Regions from separate parts of the Homo sapiens genome. Here region 2 is linked to region 1. The links come from fine-mapping of genetic effects on gene expression. Tissue or cell type: whole blood. Region 1 holds a variant in brackets; the other region holds the start of a gene. All regions are shown on one strand. Distances are between the middles of the regions.

Region 1 (10,278 bases):
CCTACAGAACTGGACACCCATGCTGCCAGCACTATACCACAGGCCAGGCGGAGGGCAGGCCTCACCCAGGGATAGCTGTGGCCATGACAAGCCTCTCTCCCTTCCAGGCCTTGGCTTCCTCATCTGCACCTACCAGCAGGGCTGCTCACTGACCTCCGATGCCCCCGCCCTCCAGCCTCGGCCCTGGCACCAGCTTTTGCCTGACCTGTGGTATGCTCTCCTGGCCACTGCCTGTATCCTCAGGCTAGGTCCAGGAGGCTGACCCTCACTCTGCAGCCTTTGGAGCCGGGAGAGTTGCACAGGCTCTGAGGAGCCCAAACCCCCAACCCCCAACCACAGGAGCCCGTGTATCTGCTCAAGGCATGGCACCCTTGGCACCCCACCTCCACACAGCTGCTGAGTGCCAAGTCCTGCTGGTGCCACGGCCGCAGAGGAACTCTCCTGAGACTAATCAGACCCACATGGAACTACTGACCGGGAAAAGTGGTTCCTGAGCATGGGGGCATGCAGAGAGCACAGGGGCTCTGCCACCTGGAGTCACGAAGGCATGGGCAGGAAGAACGGCTCCGGACAGCAAGTGCCCCGCACCAGCCCTCGGCCTTCCACCTAGGGGACACTGCAACTCTCCCAGCCTCCATAGCAAGTGTGCAGACCCATGTGGGGCAGGGCTGGGCATGCCACACACAAGGGATGCTCAACGAACAGCAGGCCTGGAGCTCGGGAGCCAGGAGAGAGGCCCATGGACCTGCCCTTGTGGAAGGAGGCAGCTTCAGGGCCCGCCACAATGTGCCGACCACTTCCCGTTTGCCTGTCCTGGCAGAAGGCCCCGGACTAACAGCATTGGCCAAGTTCTGGGGCTTTGGAGGGGGAGGAGGGCAGGAGGGAGGAATGCTCACTTCACGGAAGGGCAAAACACCAAAACCTCCGCAGTTCCTGCGGCCTCATCTCCAACAGGAGCTTCCCTGGGAGCACAGCATCCCAGTCACTCCAAGCCAGGGCTGCGGAGGGCTGCTCTGCACAGCCTGCCCGTGGGAGGGAGGACACCCGGCCAGAGCCACTCTATGTGACTGTTCTTCACAGCCTCAGCTTTCTCCAGGGATCCGGCAGCCCTCATGCCATCACAGGAAGCCTTGGGCTTCACCCCCAAATACCCGAGTTGGTACATCTGTGACAGGCTCAGTCCTCAGAATGTTTGCCAAGTCACGAGGAGCAACGTCCCTGGAGAGGCTGCCACAGCCCCCAGTGGAACCCCACTTCCTGATGAGCCTGAGGCCTGCCCCCGAGGCAGTGCTGGGCAGAGCCGCCATCCCCCTCTGGCAGACCCACCTCAGGTCGGCTGCTATGAGGTTGAAGCCATTGTACAGATGGCCCTCCATAGAGACCTTCTTCAGGTAGGACAAGCTGTCCACGTCAGTGGTCAGAAAGTGGGTGACAAGTTCACCTGTAGGCAGGGGACAGATGCTGTGTCCACAGCTGCAGGCATGTGCTCTTCTCCCAGGAACACTGATATGGGGCCCCCTGGGGAGGATGCAGGAAGATGAGGGGTCCCACTGGAGCCCTGGCCTGTCATGACTGCCGCAAGAGTCAGCCACACCTCATTAGCCTGGCTGCCACTCAGGTCGGCACTGAAAACTGCTCATTTTATTAAAAAAAAAATTTCCCCACTATGTCTTCCTATGGAAATCCAGCATGAAGTAAACAACACCTTTCAGTGGGGACAATGTGTGTCCACAGAGCTGTCGTCTCGGGGAAGGCATCTACTCTACAAACATTCCAGGCAGGGGACAGTGACACAGCAGTCAGGAGTGCCATGCATGAGGACAAGGGGAGAGTGCGCCCTGAGAGGAGTAAACAGTGCTGCGTGGGTCAGGTGGGAGTGGGCTCCTGGCTGCGACGCCAGAGGGCCAGGGTGTGGGAAATGGGATGCTCCCCTCCTCACTCTTCCTGTCTCTGCCGCATACCCCTGCAGCACACCTCAGTGGCGGCAGTGATATGCCCACGGAAGCCACCCACCTGCCACGGGGCCCAGCTTCCCCCTTCTTGTCCCCACCCTTACCTGGGCCCTGCCCTGCCACGCTTTGTCACCGCCCACTCTGTAACCTGGCCCTGCCCCACGGTACCTCAGCCCTGCCCCATCCCACTCCCAAGCACAAGCACCTTGGCACTTCCTACCTTGGCCCGCCCCACTCCACCATACATTGGCCAGTCCTGTAGTCCCTTGGCCCCACCTTGTCTCACCTAGGCCTGCCCCACCCCACCCTGTCTCACCTTGGCCCCACCCCACTCGCCTTACCTCGCCCTCGGGCCTGCCAGTCCAGCTGCGGCTGCAGGTAGTTGGTGAGTGCTGCCAGCTTGCCACGTGTGCTGATGCCCAGCCATGTGCCTCCTTCCTTGCCTTCCTCCATGTCCAGCCCTGTGGCAGATGACAGTGTTACCACCATTGATGCCACCCATTCCAGTCCCCCACCTGGTTCCCAGCCCTGGGAGACGCATACTCGGCCCAGCTCCTGCCTCAAGCTCCTCGAGGACGTTCGACATGCGGCTTGGCCCAGCAGCCCCAGCTATGGAATCGTGGCTGGAACTCTTCAAGGCCAGGCAGCCCCTGGGGTTCATGGGTCGTGCAAGTGAGATCCCTGTCCTGCAGGACAACTATGACACCAACCACACCTATCCCAACAGATGCCCTGCAGAACACATCCTTCCACTTGGGCCAGCGTCAAGGCTGAGGGGCAGCACTAGGCTCCAATCGCATGAATGGGGTGCAGGGACGCTGGCTGTCCTCACCCAGCAGGATGCACCAGGCCCAAAGGGCAGGCCCTTCACTAGGAGCCCAGCACACAACCAGGACCTTCACCCCCGCCAAATCTGCAGGGCATGGGCCACTGCTAATGCCACAAGGTTGGAGGGCTCTGAAAGCCACAGGAGGGCTCCTTCTTAGACCAGGGGGTCATTTTACCCAAAGATTGGGGCAAAAAAGGCTGTCATTAAGATGTTATTTTTATTATTTTATTTCATTTTTTATTTTTTTGAGACAGAGTCTCACTCTGTCACCCAAGCTGGAGTTCAGTGGCAATCACACAGTTCACTGCAACCTCCACCTCCCAGGCTCAAGCGATCCTCCCACCTCAGCCCAAGTAGCTGGGACCACAGGCAGGTACCATCACACTCGGCTGATTTTTGCATTTTTTTGTACAGACAAAGTTTTGCTGTGTTGCCCAGGCTTGTCTCGAACTCCTGGGCTCAAGCGATCCTCCCGACTCAGCCTCCCAAAGTGCTGGGATTACAGGAGTGAGCCACTGCACTGGCTAGGATGTTATTTTATTTATTATTGTTATTATTACTTTTTGAGACAGAGTTTCGCTCTTGTTGCCCAGGCTGGAGTGCAATGGTGTGCTCTCGGCTCACTGCAACCTCTCCCTCCTGGGTTCAAGCGATTCTCCTGCCTCAGCCTCCTGAGTAGCTGGAATTACAGGCATGTGCCATCACACCTGGCTAATTTTGTATTTTTAGTAGAAACGGAGTTTCTCCATGTTGGCCAGGCTGGTCTCGAATTCCCAACCTCAGGTGATCCGTCCGCCTTGGCGTCCCAAAGTGCTGGGATTACAGGTGTGAGCCACCGTGCCTGGCCCTAAGATATTATTTTTATAACAATAATTAATTATAACAGAAAAAGAAAAGATGTAAAGATCAAAAATAAAGAAATAAAACTGTATTTGTGGCCCCGTGCGGTGACTCACACCTGTAATCCCAGCCCTTTGGGAGGCCGAGGCGGGCAGATCACCTGAGGTTGGGAGTTCAAGACCAGCCTGACCAACATGGAGAAACACCATTTCTATTAAAGATACAAAATTAGCCAGGCGTGGTGGTGCATGCCTGTAATCCCAACTACTTAGGAGGCTGAGGCAGCC[T/C]ATAATCCCAGCTACTCGGGGGGCTGAGGCAGGGGAATTGCTTGAACCCGGGAGGTGGAGGTTGCAGTGAGCCGAGATCACACCATTGCACTCTCAGCGAAACTCTGTCTCAAAAAAAAAAAAAAAACCCAACAAAACTGTATTTGCAACCAGCAGGATCATATATGAAGAAAACCCAAAAGGAATACCAAAACCGATGTATTAGAACTAATAAGTAAATGCTAGCAAGAACTGGAAAGTGAGCATTTAAATATACCATTTATAACAGCATTTTTAAAATCCTTAGTGTGATTAAAAAAAAAAAAAAAAGCCGGGTGCAGTGGCTCACGCCTGTAATCCCAGCACTTTGGGAGGCCAAGGCGGGCGGATCACGAGGTCAGGAGTTCGAGACCAGCCTGGCCAATATGATGAAACCCCATCTCTACTAAAAATACAAAAATTAGCTGGGCATGGTGGCAGGCACCTGTAGTTCCAGCTACTCGGGAGGCTGAGACAGGAGAATTGCTGGAACCCGGGAGGTGGAGGTTGCAATGAGCAGAGATGGCGCCATTGCACTCTAGCCTGGGCAACAGACCAAGACTCCGTCTCAAAAAAAAAAAAAAAAAAAAAAACCACCAGGAAAATATTTAATGAAAAATGAGTGACAAAGACTGAAAACTCCAGGGCACTGTTGAGGGTCTCAAGTTGAGCTGACCTGATTTAAGGAGAGACATGCATATTCACTGAAAGATTCAATAGTGTTTTTTTGTTTGTTTTTGTTTTTTAGAGTCTTGCTCTGTCGCCTAGGCTGGAGTGCAGTGGTGTGATCTCAGTTCACTGCAAGCTCCGCCTCCCGGGTTCAGGCCATTCTCCTGCCTCAGCCTCCCAAGTAGCTGGGACTACAGGTGCCCACCACCACACCTAGCTAATTTTTTCATATTTTTTTAGTAGAGACAGGGTTTCACCGTGTTAGCCAAGATGGTCTCGGTCTCCTGATCTCATGATCGGCCCGCCTCGGCCTTCCAAAGTGCTGGAATTACAGGCGTGAGCCACCGTGCCCAGCCTCAACAGTGTTTCTTCTTGTTATTATTTGTTTCACTGGGTACTTCTTAGACAACTCAGTATTGTTAAGGTGACACTTCTCCCCACATGACCCATAGATTCAAAACCTGCCCAGTCAAAATCCCAGGGGGCTTTTCGTTTTATAGCAATTAACAGACTGGCTGAAATATCTATGCATATGCAAAGGAACTGGGATGGCCAAAATAGTCCCGAAAAAGAAGGCAGACCCACATTGCCTGATTTCTTTTTTCTTTTTTTTTTTTTTTTTGAGACAGAGTTTCGCTCTTGTTACCCAGGCTGGAGTGCAATGGCGTGATCTCAGCTCACCGCAACCTCCGCCTCCCGGGTTCAAGTGATTCTCCTGCCTCAGCCTCCCGAGTAGCTGGGATTACAGGCATGGACCACCACACCCAGCTAATTTTGTATTTTTAGTAGAGACGGGGTTTCTCCATGTTGGTCAGGCTGGTCTTGAACTCCCAACCTCAGGTGATCTGCCCACCTCGGTCTCCCAAAGTGCTGGGATTACAGGTGTGAGCCACAGTGCTCAGCCTGATTTCAAGACTTACTAAAAAGCAGCAGCACTCATAGACTGCATGGTGTTGGCATCAAGACAGATACATAGATCAATGGGATACAACAGAGTCAGGAATAGACCCACACATATATGTTCAACTGATGTACAACCAAGTTGCCATAGTAATGAACTAGGCAAAAGATAATCCATTTAATAAATGATGCTGGAACAACTAGAGAGATTTGGGGGTTGGAGGCAGTAAATCTCAACCCCTACCTCACACCATGTACAAAACCTTGAGATAAATCATAGACCAAACATAAAAACAAAAATTAGGCTTCTAGAAGCAAATGGAGGAAAATATTGTTATATATTTTCCTCTGGGTAGGCAAAGACTTTTTGGATAAGGCACAAAAAGAACAACTCATAAAAGATAAGATAAACTGTACTTTGTTAAAATGAAATATTCTGGCCGGGCGCAGTGGCTCACGCCTGTAATCCTACCACTTTGGGAGGCCAAGGCAGGCAGATCAAGAGGTCAAGAGATTGAGCCCATCCTGGCCAACATGGTGAAACCCCATCTCTACTAAAAATACAAAAATTAGCTGGGCATGGTGGTGCATGCTTGTAGTCCCAGCTACTCAGGAGGCTGAGGCAGAAGAATCACTTGAACCTGGGAGGCGGAGGTTGCAGTGAGCTGAGATCGCACCACTGTACTCCAGCCTGGCAACAGAGTAAGACTCCACCCACTCAAAAGAAAAAAAAAAAATTCTGCTCACCATAAGCTATCATTAAGGAAATGAGTAGGCACAAAGGACTCATATCCAGAATGGGTAAATAACTCTTACAAATCAATAATTAAAACAAGAACAAAACTTCCAAATTGCCCAAGCAACAAGGACCAGATTTACCCTCCTGCATAAAACAACCAAAAAATAAATAAATAAATAAAACTCAAGAAACAATGGTGTATTTATTAGTCCATTCTCATGCTGCTACAAGGACATACCCGAGACTGGGTAATTTATAAAGGAAAGATATGTGACTCATAGTTCAGCATGGCTGGGGAGGCCTCAGGAAACTTACAATCATGGCAGAAGGGGAAGCAAACATGTCCTTCTTCACATGGTGGCAGGAAGGAGAAGTTCCAAGCAAAGCAGGAAAAGCCCCTTATAAAACCATCAGATCTTGGCTGGGAGCGGCAGCTCATGCCTGTAATGTCAGCACTTCGGAAGGCCGAGGCAGGCGGATCACCTGAGGTCAGGAGTTCGAGACCAGCCTGGCCAACATGGTGAAACCCCATCTCTACTAAAAATACAAAAATTAGCTGGGCGTGGTGGCAAGCGGCTGTAATTCCAGCTACTCAGGAGGCTGAGGCAGGAGAATTGCTTGAACCTGGGAGGTGGAGGTTGCAGTGAGCCGAGATCGCACCATTGCACTCCAGCCTGGGTAACAAGAGCGAAACTCAGTCTCAAAAAAAAAAAAACAAAACACTATCAGATCTCATGAGAACTCACTATCATGAGAATAGCAGCATGGGGGTAATGCCCCATGATTCAATTACCTCCCACTGGGTCTCTCCCAGGACATGTGGGGATTTGGGGAACTATAATTCAAGATGAGATTTGGGTGGAGACACAGCCAAACCATATCAAATGGGTTTTACAAAAAAGGATATGACAGACAGGAAACAAAGTGAGCCCATGATTAGAGAGGCTCCAGGACCCAGCCCAGGGAGTGGGGGGACCAGGCCGAATTCAGCAGACTCCCTGAGCTGAGAAGAGGGGCTTAGTGTTTGGGGAAACTAAGACAACCAGAGTTCATGGCTGCCATAGTTTGGATGTTTGTCCCCCAGACCTCATGTTAAAATCTGATCCCCGGGCTGGGTGAGGTGGCTCACGCCTCTAATCTCAGCATTTTGGGAGGCTGAGGCGGGTGGATTGCCTGAGGTCAAGAGTTCGAGACCAGCCTGACCAACATGGTGAAACCCCGTCTCTACTAAAAACACAAAAAATTAGCTGGGCATGGTGGCAGGCGCCTGTAATCCCAGCTACTCAGGAGGCTGAGGCAGGAGAATTGCTTGAACCTTGGAGGCGGAGCTTGTGGTGAGCCGAGATCGTGCCATTGCACTCCAGCCTGGGCAACAAGAGTGAAACTCTGTCTCAAAAAAAAAAAAAAAAAACAAACAAACCAAAAAACTGATCCCCAGTGTTGGAGGTGGGGTCTAATGGGAGACAGATCTACCTAATGGCAGATCCTTCATGAACGGCTTGGTGTTGTCCTCACAGTGATGAGTTCTAGCTCTATTAGTTCCTTTGAGAACTGGTTGTTTAAAAGAGCGTGGCGCCTCCTCCCTCTCTCTGGCTTCCTCCCTCCGTGTGTGATCTGCACATACCACCTCCCCTTCCCCTTCCACCATCAGTAGAAGCTTCCTGAGGCCTGCATCAGAAGCAGATGCTGACACTGTGCTTCAGGTCCCCTGTAGAACTCTAAGCCAAATAAACCTCTTTTCTTTATAAATTACCCAGCCTTGTGGATCACTTGAGGTCAGGAGTTTGAGACCAGCCCAGCCAACCTGGTGAAACCCCATCTCTACTAAAAATACAAAAATTGGGCTGGGGGAAGGATAGCGTTAGGAGAAATACCCAATGTAAATGATGAGTTGATGGGTGCAGCAAACCAACATGGCACATGTATGTATACCTATGTAACAAACCTGCACGTTCTGCACATGTACCCTAGAACTTAAAGAATAATAATAAAAAAATACAAAAATACAAAAATTAGCAGGGTGTGGTGGCAGGTGCCTGTAATCCCAGCTACTCAGGAGGCTGAGGCAGGAGAATCACTTGAACCTGGGAGGTGGAGGTTGCAGTGAGCCAAGGTCGCACCATTGCACTCCAGCCTAAGCGACAGAGCAAGACTCTGTCTCAAAAAAAAAAAAAAAAAAAAAATTACCCAGCCTTGGCTGGGCACCATGGCTTATTATCTGTAATCCCAGCACTTTCGGAGGCCAAGAAAGGAGGGTCACTTCAGGCCAGGACTTTGAAACCAGCTTGTGCAACACAGCAAGGCTTTGTCGCTACAAATTATTTTTAAAAATTAGCTGGGCATGGTGATGTGCACTTGTAGTCCCAGCTACTAGGGAGGCTGAGGTGGGAGGATCACTTGAGGCCAGGAGTTAGAGGCTGCAGTGAGACAGGATTGTGCCACTGCACTCCAGCCTGGGCAACAGAGTGAGACCCTATCTCAAAAAAAAAGAAAAAAATTACCCAGACTCAGCTTTTTCCTTTAGAGCAACACAAACGAACTAAGACAGTGGCACAAAAGTCCAGAGAGGAAGGAGCTACACAGAGAATGTCTGATCAGCATCTCAGGGAGGAGACTATATGACACTGGGGCAAGAACCACCAGTGCTCACACAGGGCAGGGAGTAGGGCTGGCTCCCAGACACCAGGCTGGAAAACCTCAAGATCTAGGGGCACCGAGAAAAGTACGCAGAGAGCATCGCAGAGGTGTGGGACAAGGGCAAGTGAACTAATATATGTGTGTAACTGGAGAGAAGGAGAGAGTGAGAGAGAAGACAGAAAAACTACTTGAAAAAGTAATGGCCGCTGGGTGCAATGGCTCATGCTTCTAATCCCAGCACTTTGGGAGGACAAGGCGGGCGGATCACCTGAGGTCGGGAGTTCAAGGCCAGCCTGACCAACATGGAGAAACCCCATCTCTACTAAAAATACAAAATTAGCCTGGTGTGGTGGTGCATGCCTGTAATCCCAGCTATTAGGAAGGCTGAAGCAGGAGAACAGCTTGAACCCGGGAGATGGAGGTTGCGGTGAGCTGAGATGGCACCATTGCACTCCAGCCTGGGCAACAAGAGCAAAATTCCATCTCAAAAAAAAAAAAAAAAAAAAAGAAGTGATGGCCAAATTTTTATGAATTTAATGATTTTGATTTGCATTTCTTTTCTTTTTTTTCAGACAGGGTCTCACTCTGTTGCCTAGGCTAACTGCAGTGGCTCAGTCTCGGTTCACTGCAGCTTCTACCTTCCAGGCTCAGGCGATCCTCCCACCTCAGCCTCCTGAGTAACTGGGACAACAGGCATATGCCACCACAGCTGGCTAATTTTTTTTTTTTTTTTTGTAAAGACAGGGACTCACTACGTTGCCCAGGCCGGTCTCAAGCTCCTGGCCTCAAGGGATCCTCCTGCCTTGGACTCCCAAAGTGCTGAGATTACAGGTGTGAGCCACCGGCCCAGGGTGATTTCATTTCTAACAAGTTCTCAAGTAAAGCTGGTGCTACAGGCCCAAGGACCACACCTGGAGAACCACTGTCCTAAACTTTTGCATACAATCCGGTGACGCCAGAGAGTGAGAGGATGTGGGCCTTAGTGATATGGTCACCCCGACACTTGGCAGAAGCCCGTGTACATCCATGCACCAGCTGCCACCATCAAAACACCACAGGGGTGAACAATTCCACAAGACTGGAGCTGCTGGGGTTGGCACTAGTTCAGAGGCAGCTGACAGACCTGGGTGCCAGGGTGGGATGGAGCCCAGGAGGGCACAATAGTCAAGGAACCAGAAGAGGGTAACCCTCTGAGCCGCCACATCTTCATCTATGAAAACCTTCCACCTTCCAAGGACATCAGTCTTGTGCCTTCACCCACCCGTCCTGACCAGCCCTGCACCCACTGCATCCTCCTATACCAGCAGGCCTAGGACCACCCTGCCTCAGTCTCCATGCACCCGTCCTCCTCCCACACGGTGCCGGGACCACCCAGCCTCAGCAGCATTCTCACACTACTGCCAGGCC
Region 2 (9,137 bases), 29 kb after region 1:
TACAATCTGTCACGCCAGACACTGAAAGCGTGCACACCCAGTAAGCATGCTTCCCGGCGGGGAACAGTAATGTCTACCCTCAAAAGAAAGTGCACTGGCCAGGCACAGTGGCTCACACCTGTAATCCCAACACTTTGGGAGGCCGAGGTGGGTGGATCACCTGAGGTCAGGAGTTCAAGACCAGCCTGGCTAAAATGGTGAAACCCCGTCTCTACTAAAAACACAAAAATTAGCAGGGCGTGGTGATGCACGCCTGTAATCCCAGCTACTCAGGAGGCTGAGGCAGGAGAATCGCATTGAACCTGAGAGGCAGAGGTTGCAGTGGCACGATCTCAGGTCACTGCAACCTCTGCCTCCGGTATTCAAGCGATTCTCCTGCCTCAGCCTTTTGAGGTGACAAAGCAAGACTCTGTCTCAAAACGCAAAAAAAAAGAAAATGTACAGATCCTGCCCTCCTTCCCTGCCAGGGCTGGGACATTTCTATGGGCAGGGAAGAGAGGGAAGGAAGGGCAAGAACCCAAGAGTCACTTGTTCACAGAAAGCAAGAGAAGACCCAATCAGCCCTGGTGCAAGACAGCTCTGCATAGGACGGGGTGTAGCTGGGCTGTCGCAGCAACACCACACCTGGAGACCCTGGGGGCCAGAGGGGATGGGACACACGCTTTTGGCGGAACCACTTCCCTTTGGCAAGCGAAAAGGCAAGCATAGCACATGGGCAGAGGGGATGTGTGCTAAGCAGAAAGCAGTGGTGACAGAGGAATGGCAAGCTATTAGTACCACAGGGTCAAGGGGACCTAGACACTTGGGAGGGTAGCCATCAAGTCGGGCTCCTATTGGGGCTGCACATGGTGAGTCCCTGAACAGAGGGTGACTAAGCCCTACAGTCTGCTGCCCCCATTTAATGGCCTCAATGGCCACAAGGGCTGGTGCTGCAGGGCTGAGCAGCCGGGCGCCCAATCCCCATCCCTTGTAATCCCCACTCCATCAGCGGTGGCAGCCCCCAGGGGCAGAGCTTGAAAGCACGAGTTGCTCTTTTCAAAGGCAGACACAGACATGTGACGCGGGCTCCCGGTGGCTGTCAGCAGAGGAGGTAAACACACGTGGGAACACAGTGTCGCTGTTCACGGGGCCTGGGCGAAGAAAGTCCTGACGTCAGGAAACCCTCTGAGTCTCCAGTCCACTGCAATGCCCTGCTCCCTCCTATCTCCGCAGCAAGAGCTCACCAGTTTACACTCTCTGGCTATTAAATGGCATTTTTTATTTTTATTTTTAGATGGAGTTTTGCTCTTGTCGCCCAGGCTGGAGTGCAATGGTCCTGTTGGGTGGGCTGGGGGCAGCTGGAGAGGGTGACCTCTCTCACTGCAACGTTCGCCTCCTGGGTTCAAGCAATTCTCCTGCCTCAGCCTTTCGAGTAGTTGGGATTACAGGCACCTGCCACCATGCCCAGCAAATTTTTGTATTTTGTTTTTAGTAGGGACGGGGTTTCACTATGTTGGCCAGGCTGATCTCGAACTCCTGACCTCAGGTGATCCACCTGTCTCGGCCTCCCAAAGTGCTGGGATTATAGGTGTGAGCCACCGTGCCGGGCCTAAATGGCATTTTATTATGACACATTTTCTTTTTTTTTTTTTGAGATGGAGTTTCGCTCTGTTGCCCAGGCTGGAGTGCAGTGGCACGATCCCGGCTCACTGCAAGCTCTGCCTCCTGGGTTCACGCCATTCTCCTGCCTCAGCCTCCCGAGTAGCTGGGACTACAGGTGCCTGCCACCACCACGTCCGGCTAATTTTTTTGTATTTTTAGTAGAGACGGGGTTTCACCGTGTTAGCCAGGATGGTCTCGATCTCCTGGCCTCGTGATCCACCCGCCTCGGCCTCCCAAACTGCTGGGATTACAGGCGTGAGCCACCGTGCTTGGCCTATCATGACACATTTTCTACAGTGGTACTCTCTCCTCAGATCTTCACAATGCTTCCGGGGCATTTCTTCAGCCTCACACCAGAGGATCACTGTCTCTTCCCAGTTCCAAGGAATAGCACAAACAAGAGGCATCGTGAGCAGACAGCAAGCTCTGGACACAGGGTGGCCCCATCCTCAGGCCCTCCTGGGAGGAACACTCAGCTTCCTCACAAGCCAGGGACAGGCCAGCCTCGCAGCGGCCCCTGCGGCCTGAGTGGTTAGTAAAAACAAAAAAAAAGGGGGGCACTCCTACCATGCCCGCAAAGAGGATGAAGGCAAGCACTTCAAGTTTCAAGTTAGCATGGCACTGAAGATCTCAATGGATGTACCCCCAAATGTCAGCAAGTGCACCAGGGGAGCAGCCGCTGGGAGAAGGAGGCCAGCCTTTTTTATCTTTAAGCATGCATAAACTATTTTTGCAGTCTAAAAGGGAAGTTGAGAGAAAAAGGGGAAAAAGCTGTGATAACCTCAAAAAGCAGCTCAGTCTTTCTGGGGTGACCTTGTTTTCACGGAGCCCATCCTCATGGTAGGGATAGGCTTGTTTTCAAGACAGCCCAAGCCCTATGGTAGGGGCCAACAAAGGCCAGGCTCTGCCATGCTGCTGCCATGTGCTGACTGACACGTCACCAAAGGATGGGCCCTGCTTCTCATGCATCTGGAGTGTCAATGACAAGCATGGCCCTACTTCGAGAAGTCTTCCCAGCCTCCCTATCCCGGGCCATTTCTCTCCAGACCCCTTCTGGGGTCCCTGAGAAGCCCCTCATATCCCTGTGGGTGTTTTCAGAAGCAGCACCCTTGGGTGGGCACCGGGGTGCCCTCCAAGTTCGCCGTCTGGCGCAGAAGCCGGGCACAGGATCAAGTTCCCAGGACACTGCACGTGATTCCACACACTGCAAAACGTAATCAGAATGACAGCCCACAAGTGAAGACCAAGGAAGCACAAGAGGCTGGGCAGCCCAGGAAGAGCTGACAGCTGGTCACCTTAGCTCAGGGAAGGGCTATGGCCACCACACATCACAGCAGGCAGGGGCTTGGTCTGAGGGGCCTGCAGTCTGAGGACATGCAAGTAACACAAAGCTGTGTAGGGGTCAAAGGGGGTGGGGGCACCAGGGCACCCTACCCTGGACCACCAGAGCACTAGGATCCTGTGGGAACAGAGGCTCTGCTGTGTCCATCTAACAACATGGTCACCCTCTCCAGCTGCTCCCAGCCCACCCAACACAGACGCAGGACACAGACACAGGGACACTCCTAAGAGAGTGGCCCAGGAGTAGTAGAGGCACTGGGAGCAGGCCCTGGCTCTGAATGACCTTGGGAACACGATCTGCCACCTTAGCCTGAGTTTTCCTTGTATGAGCAGGACTGGATCAATGAATGCTTGCCCCAAAAGGCTGCCCAGAGGCAAATGAGCTAGCGTGAGAAAGCCTTCCAAAGAGCTACTCAGCTACCCCCTTATAGCTGCCGTCACATCTGCCTCATGGAAGAGGGCACTGTGCCCAGAGTGGCAGCAAAACAGTGGTCAGCAGGTCTAGAGCCACACGACAGTGCAAACAGGCCTGGCCAGGGCAGGGCATGTGACATTCCTGAAGAGGAAGGGGGCCTGAGGCCCAGGGACTTGTCCAAGGGCAGACGGTTCACTCTAAAGCTTGTGGTCCAGCAGGAAGCCAAGGGAGCACAGGAGAGGTGCTAGGGGCAGGGAAGGTGGGGGTCTCAGCAAACAGCCCTCTGTGCCCACTTCCTAGAGGAAAACGGGCAAAGCCCAGGCTGCTACAAAGCCCAGCGGTGGGGCAAGGACTGCCCTGAGTGCAGCCCTGCCAGCCCCTACCTCTGACGCTCTGGAGTTGGGGGTGGGGGATCTAACTACCCAAACCTCCCCAGGAAGGCCGCATCCAGGCGCAGGGATGACCCAGCACTTACTATCTACTCACACCCACATTAGCTGTCACCCTGCTGGCCCGCAGCAGGCCGCGGGTAGGGGGCAGAGTGACCGGGCGCCAGAGCTGTCCCTGATGCTGGCCAAGGCCGAGCAGCCCACACACCCTGCAGGGACCACGCAGCTCCCAACCCTGCCGATCTCAGCCTCCCCGCAGCGAGTCTGGTCCCACCTGCCAGAGTCCCTCGCATCCCGTGCCAGCGGGGATTATCAAAAACACCTTCCAGTAACGCGCGGGGCATTTTCGTCGGCCGGGATCGACGTGGTTGCCCCTGACCCAGCCGCCTGATTCTATACCATACCTCAGAAAGGGGAAACTGAGGCAGGGTGAGGAAGTGCGGCCAGCCCACCCACCTTCAAGCAGCCTGGCCCGGTCCGCGCACCCAGAGCCCAGAGCCCGGAGCCCCCGAGCCCAGGCCGGCCGGGCCACTAGCGGAGTCGGCCAGCCCCGGAGCCGCGCACTCACCGCCTCCGCCACCGCCGCCGACTTCCGGGTGCCGCGCCCGCGCGCCACCGCAGCCAGCCCAGTACCGCCCAGCCCGAAGCCGGCGCGTTCACCATTGGGCCGCGCAGCGAGGGGCGGGGCGGCGCGCCGCATGCCGGCGTCCCGTTGGCTGGGCGCGCTGTCGCTCGGAGGCTGCCACCTCCTGGCGCCCCGCCCCCGGGGCTGCGCCAAAGCTTCGGGCTGCGCGGGCGTCTGAGCGCTTCCTGATCCAGCGGCCTTCGGGGACTCCGCGGCTCCCTGCCTGCAGGGACGCCATGGGAGGTCGCAGCCGCCCCTGAGTCCATGCCCTCATGGACACCATCTGTCACCTGCTCACCCTGCGGCCTCTCTCGGAAGAGGTACAGGAATGCTCACTTCCGGACTGGCCCCCTCAGACTGCGTCCTGGTCTCCCCATCCTGTTCACTCAACCCCACCTCTGGACCTGGCCATCTTCCTCTTGGTCATCCCTTCCTTCACTTTATGGCCTCCAGGTCGGCTCTTTCCTCCCTGATGTCCCTGCCATTCCCAGTATGTACCCCCAGACCCTGGACTAGGCATTTGAGCACTATACCCTGCACACCCACCACCTCCCCCACTTCCACCCCCCAGTGTAGCCTTTGAGCTCACATCCAGGTCCAGGCCCCAGCGACGAGGGGCTGGCCCAGCTTGACTTGTGCAGGGTGAGCAGGTGGGCACTGACTGGGGCCCTCCCAACAGGACAGAGGCATTAGCTGGGACCGCTGCTCCTGTAGCCTCTGGGCTGTGCCTGGGCCTATGTGGCAGAAAGGTGGAGAGTCAAAGCCCAGAGGCTCAGGCCCTGCCTCAAAGTGAGCATTCAAAAAACTATGACATGGATGACAAAGACATTAGGGATAATGATAATGTGTAAAGCACTCTAAACCCAATGTCTGGGTCAGCAGTTCTTTCATCCCACTTTATAGATGTAAACACTGAGACTTGGAGCAGTTATGTCATTCAGTTGAAGTTGAAAAAGGTGGCAAGCAAGAGAGGCCACATTAGCTTCAACCTGTGTTGAAGACCTAGGTGCCCTGATGCCCTGCAGAAAACTGGGGCTCAGGGATGGGAAGAGCCTGGCTGGTAATCAGCAACGGCAAGAGTCTAACCTGGACCTACATGCGGGCCCGTTGTGCTCCACACTTTTGCTATCTTATCTGTGTTTCCCCTGGAACCCAACAGAACCTTTTACAAGGACTCCAGATGCCCAGGGACTCATGGCCAGCGGGCCGCAGACCCAGCCAGACATGGTTGTCTCTCCCACCATCCAGCAGTGGGATCATGTGGGGCTGGTACCAGTGATTTCCCTCTGAGCAGCCAAACCTATGCAATCTATAGGGCCAAGAGGTGGTGGTGGTGGACAAGTGGGATCTGGGGCTTGGGGGTGATGGACTGTGCCCTGGGGTTCATGGCAGCACCTGGAGAATGGGCTTCCCCAAAGCACCAGGCCATGCACCTCAAAGCTGGACATGAGTTGACCAAGGTTTCCCTTTGCCCACAAAGAGGGATGCAGTAACATGTCAGATGGTGGTTTGCATCCTGTTCTGTCATACCTTGTGGCCTTGGGCCATCCCCACCCCCAGCCATACTTTTCCCAGCTAGACAGAGCCAGAGCAGACACTCTGATCTTCTTTGTCACCACTGACACTCCAGTCTGGATGACATGCGATGCCAGGAAGCAGGTGACGGCAGATGAAATGGGTCTAGGATGGGCACCTAAGCCCTGGGATCTTGGGGCTGCAACAGGCTCACTGGCATCCAACCTCTAATTGCACACAAACTCAGATAGGAAGCTCACTACCTTCTGTGGCCACTCTTTTGATTTCAACAGCTGCCACTCTTGAAAAGTTCTTGACACCCAGCTGAAAGCATTTTCTCTCTGTGGCTTTCTCCGGGGGCCTCACAGCTGTCCGCATGGAGCTAGGTGAGAGGATGAGAGAGGGAGAACACTGGGCTACTGGTCCCTGTGGTCTCCCTTGCTGTGTTTTTCTTATCTTTTTCTTTTTTCCTTTTTTTTGAGATGGAGTCTCGCTCTGTCTCCTAGGCTGCCGTGCGGTGGTGCAATTTCAGCTCACTGCAACCTCCGCCTCCCAGGTTCAAGCGATCTCCTGCCTCAGCCTCCCAAGTAGCTGGGACTATGGGCGTCTACCACCATGCCCCGCTACTTTTTTTTGTATTCTTTTAGTAGAGATGGGGTTTTGCTATGTTGGCCAGGCTGGTCTCGAACTCCTGACCTCTGGTGATTTGCCTGCCTTGGCCTCCCAAAGTGCTGGGATTACAGGCATGAGCCACTGCGCCCAGCCTCCCTTGTTGTGTTTCTGACCCCTGGCTGCAGCCTAATGGGCCGACTGCTGGACAGCGGTCCTGAGTCCTGTTTGAATTGGTGCTGCCCCGACATCCTCTGACCTCAGCTAATGATCCTGCCTGCCGAGGGCAGACAGGTCTCTGCAACCCTATGGGTGGTAGGGGTGGTGATGAGAGGAGAGGTAGTCTCACTTGCACAGATTTTGGTGTATGGTTCTGTCTTTTGCACTCTTTCAACAGAGGTCTGTCCAGTCCCTCTTGCAAGTGTGGGGAGGGGGTGGTGCAGGACTATGAGGTAACTGTGAGAAGAGGGGCTCCAGCAGAACCAGGGTCCAATGGCCTTGAAGAGATGGCTGGGGACAGCTGGACTCATTACGTCTACTCCTAAATGGAGGAAACGACCCCTCAGCTACACAGCACCTGAGCCAGAATGTCACCATGGTGCTGCTCCACAGGATGACAGCTACCTGGTTTGTGAGGGCCCCTATTCTAGGGACAGCTACTTCATTCTGCCCTCCCAGAGCAGCAAGCAACAACCCTATGCCAGGAGGCCAATTGGCACGTCAAGTGCCAGCTCCAATCGATTGATAGTAGCTGCCTGGCTCTGAAAGGCAGCTGGGATCGATTCACCATGCTGCCAGCACACAGATGGACCCAGCGGTGGTCCCAGCAGTGAGTTCTTGCCTTGGGCCATTTCATTTTCTTTGTCCTGGCCAAGGAATGATTGGATGAACACACTGGACTCCCAATATGGGTGGATAAGACAAGAGTGTCTGGTCACACCCCTCCACCACTCATAAGCATGGTTGTGGGCAGTTTGGTTCCCCAGGCGGCCTTGGAGAATGCAATGAGCCGAGGAACTGGTCATCTCCAGGTGCATCCAGGGCAGGAAAGGATGACAGCATGCGTGAGCCAGGGTCACTGGCTAAGAAGTCATCTCAGGACCTCCCCCTAGAAAAGCCCACTGGGCAGCATCCCTGCTGGTTCCCCCCTACACCACAAGGTTACGCAGAGCTGGCGGAGGGTCATGGTCCCACTCATGTCAGGTGCTCTTAATCTGGCAAGGAAATGTAACCTACGTGAATCTCAACAGGCAGTGAAGCACCGTTTCTTCCTGACTCCAGGTAGGGTGAAGAAAATGGGACAGTAGTACGGGGTGCGGGCATAAACGCACAACTCTGCCTCCCCAGACGCAGAGCTGTGGGGCTGTGAGAATGCCAGGAGGAGGTAAGAAAGGGCGGCCCCATGGGGGGCCTGCAGGGTGGGACAAGCCCAAGAGGTCTCTACATCCAGGCCTGGTGGGGGAGGTGAGCCCCTGGTTTACCGAGGGGGTCCCTTCCTGCCCTCGGAAATACTGCAGCTCCTACCTCCATCGTCTCCCCGCTGCGGGGACCCAGGGGCGTGAGGATGAGAGAGCCCCCAGGCCCCAGGGTCAGACGACTGTGTTCAAGCAAGTGAGAACCTCTCTGAGGCTGTTTCCCAACTGTAAAATGGGGATAGCAGCAGAACTCTCTCTCGCGGCTTGCGTGAAGAATACAATTCGATGTCGACAGGAGGGAGCGGCGCGCAGCGCGCAGCGAGTAGCAGGCGCTGAAGAAGGATACCTGTGAACTGGGAGTGGTGGCGGAGGCTACGCGGCCAGAGTCCGGGGAAGGGGCGCCGGCTCTGCCAGTCCCTGCTCGGGGCTGGATGGTCGGGGGATGTTCTCGTAAGTCGGCTGGGAGGGAGCGGTCCCGCGTACCCTGCCACCGCCGCCGCAGAGGTTCGGGCAGGTGCGGGGCCGCGGCCCCTCCGCGAGGGGGCCGGTCATCCGCCGGGACTGACATCCCGGAGGCCCAATGGCAAGCCGTCATCTCCGCGCATCCGCCCAATCGGCGCCGGTTGCCGTGCCGCGCCGGGTCTCTCGACCAATGGGAAAATTTGCTGTCAGATGGGGCGGGGCGGAGATTCGCGTCGCCGGCCCGGTCCGCTTTGCGCACGGGCCGCGTGAGGGCGGGAGGGCTGGCCCGGGGTCTCGGGTTGCGCGCTGGGCCTGGAGGGAGGGGGCGGCCCCCGCACCGGTCCGAGTTGCGGCCGCGTGGACTGCGACCCGCGCCGCGCCGCACCGCGCCGCGCCCTGGGAACGCCGCTCCCCGCGCGCCAACGGACCCGGGGAAGCCCTTCTGGGGTCCGAGGCCGCGCTGCGGGGCCGCCCACGCTGCGCTCCAGGTAAGCCTGAGCCAGTGGGCGGGGTGTGGGACCCGGGGCTGGGGCCTCGGGTCGGAGCCGGGACTGGGGGCGGGGCTGCAGATATGGGACGCATTCCGGGCAGCGGTCCGGACAGGGTCCTATCCCTGGAGTCGAGATCCGGGCGAGGGTCTGGGCCGGACGTCGGAGCCAATCTCCGCCCCACCCGCGTCTTGTCCGCGCGCTCTGCGGCGTCCGAGACCCCGGGCCGGCGGGGGC

Evidence for each region. PIP is the estimated chance that this variant, and not a neighbour inherited with it, causes the effect.
Region 2: it holds the start of TANGO2, and the variant in region 1 is fine-mapped to the expression of TANGO2 in whole blood (TOPMed, PIP 0.99).

Annotation. Positions count from the first base shown.
Region 1 is chr22:20,044,600-20,054,877 of GRCh38, reverse strand. TANGO2 (transport and golgi organization 2 homolog) reads right to left here. Exons shown (of 9, transcript NM_152906.7): 4 at 2,294-2,413; 5 at 1,327-1,441. Among named protein-coding and RNA genes, the nearest start is that of MIR185, 17 kb to the right of the region's middle. The variant T/C (reference allele first, on the strand shown) is at 3,909.
Region 2 is chr22:20,016,352-20,025,488 of GRCh38, reverse strand. It overlaps TANGO2 (transport and golgi organization 2 homolog), which reads right to left and starts at 4,379. Exons shown (of 9, transcript NM_152906.7): 1 at 4,243-4,379. It overlaps ARVCF (ARVCF delta catenin family member), which reads left to right and starts at 8,666. Exons shown (of 20, transcript NM_001670.3): 1 at 8,666-8,900. RefSeq lists enhancers at 2,119-2,258, 3,577-3,626 and silencers at 4,227-4,616, 8,375-8,774.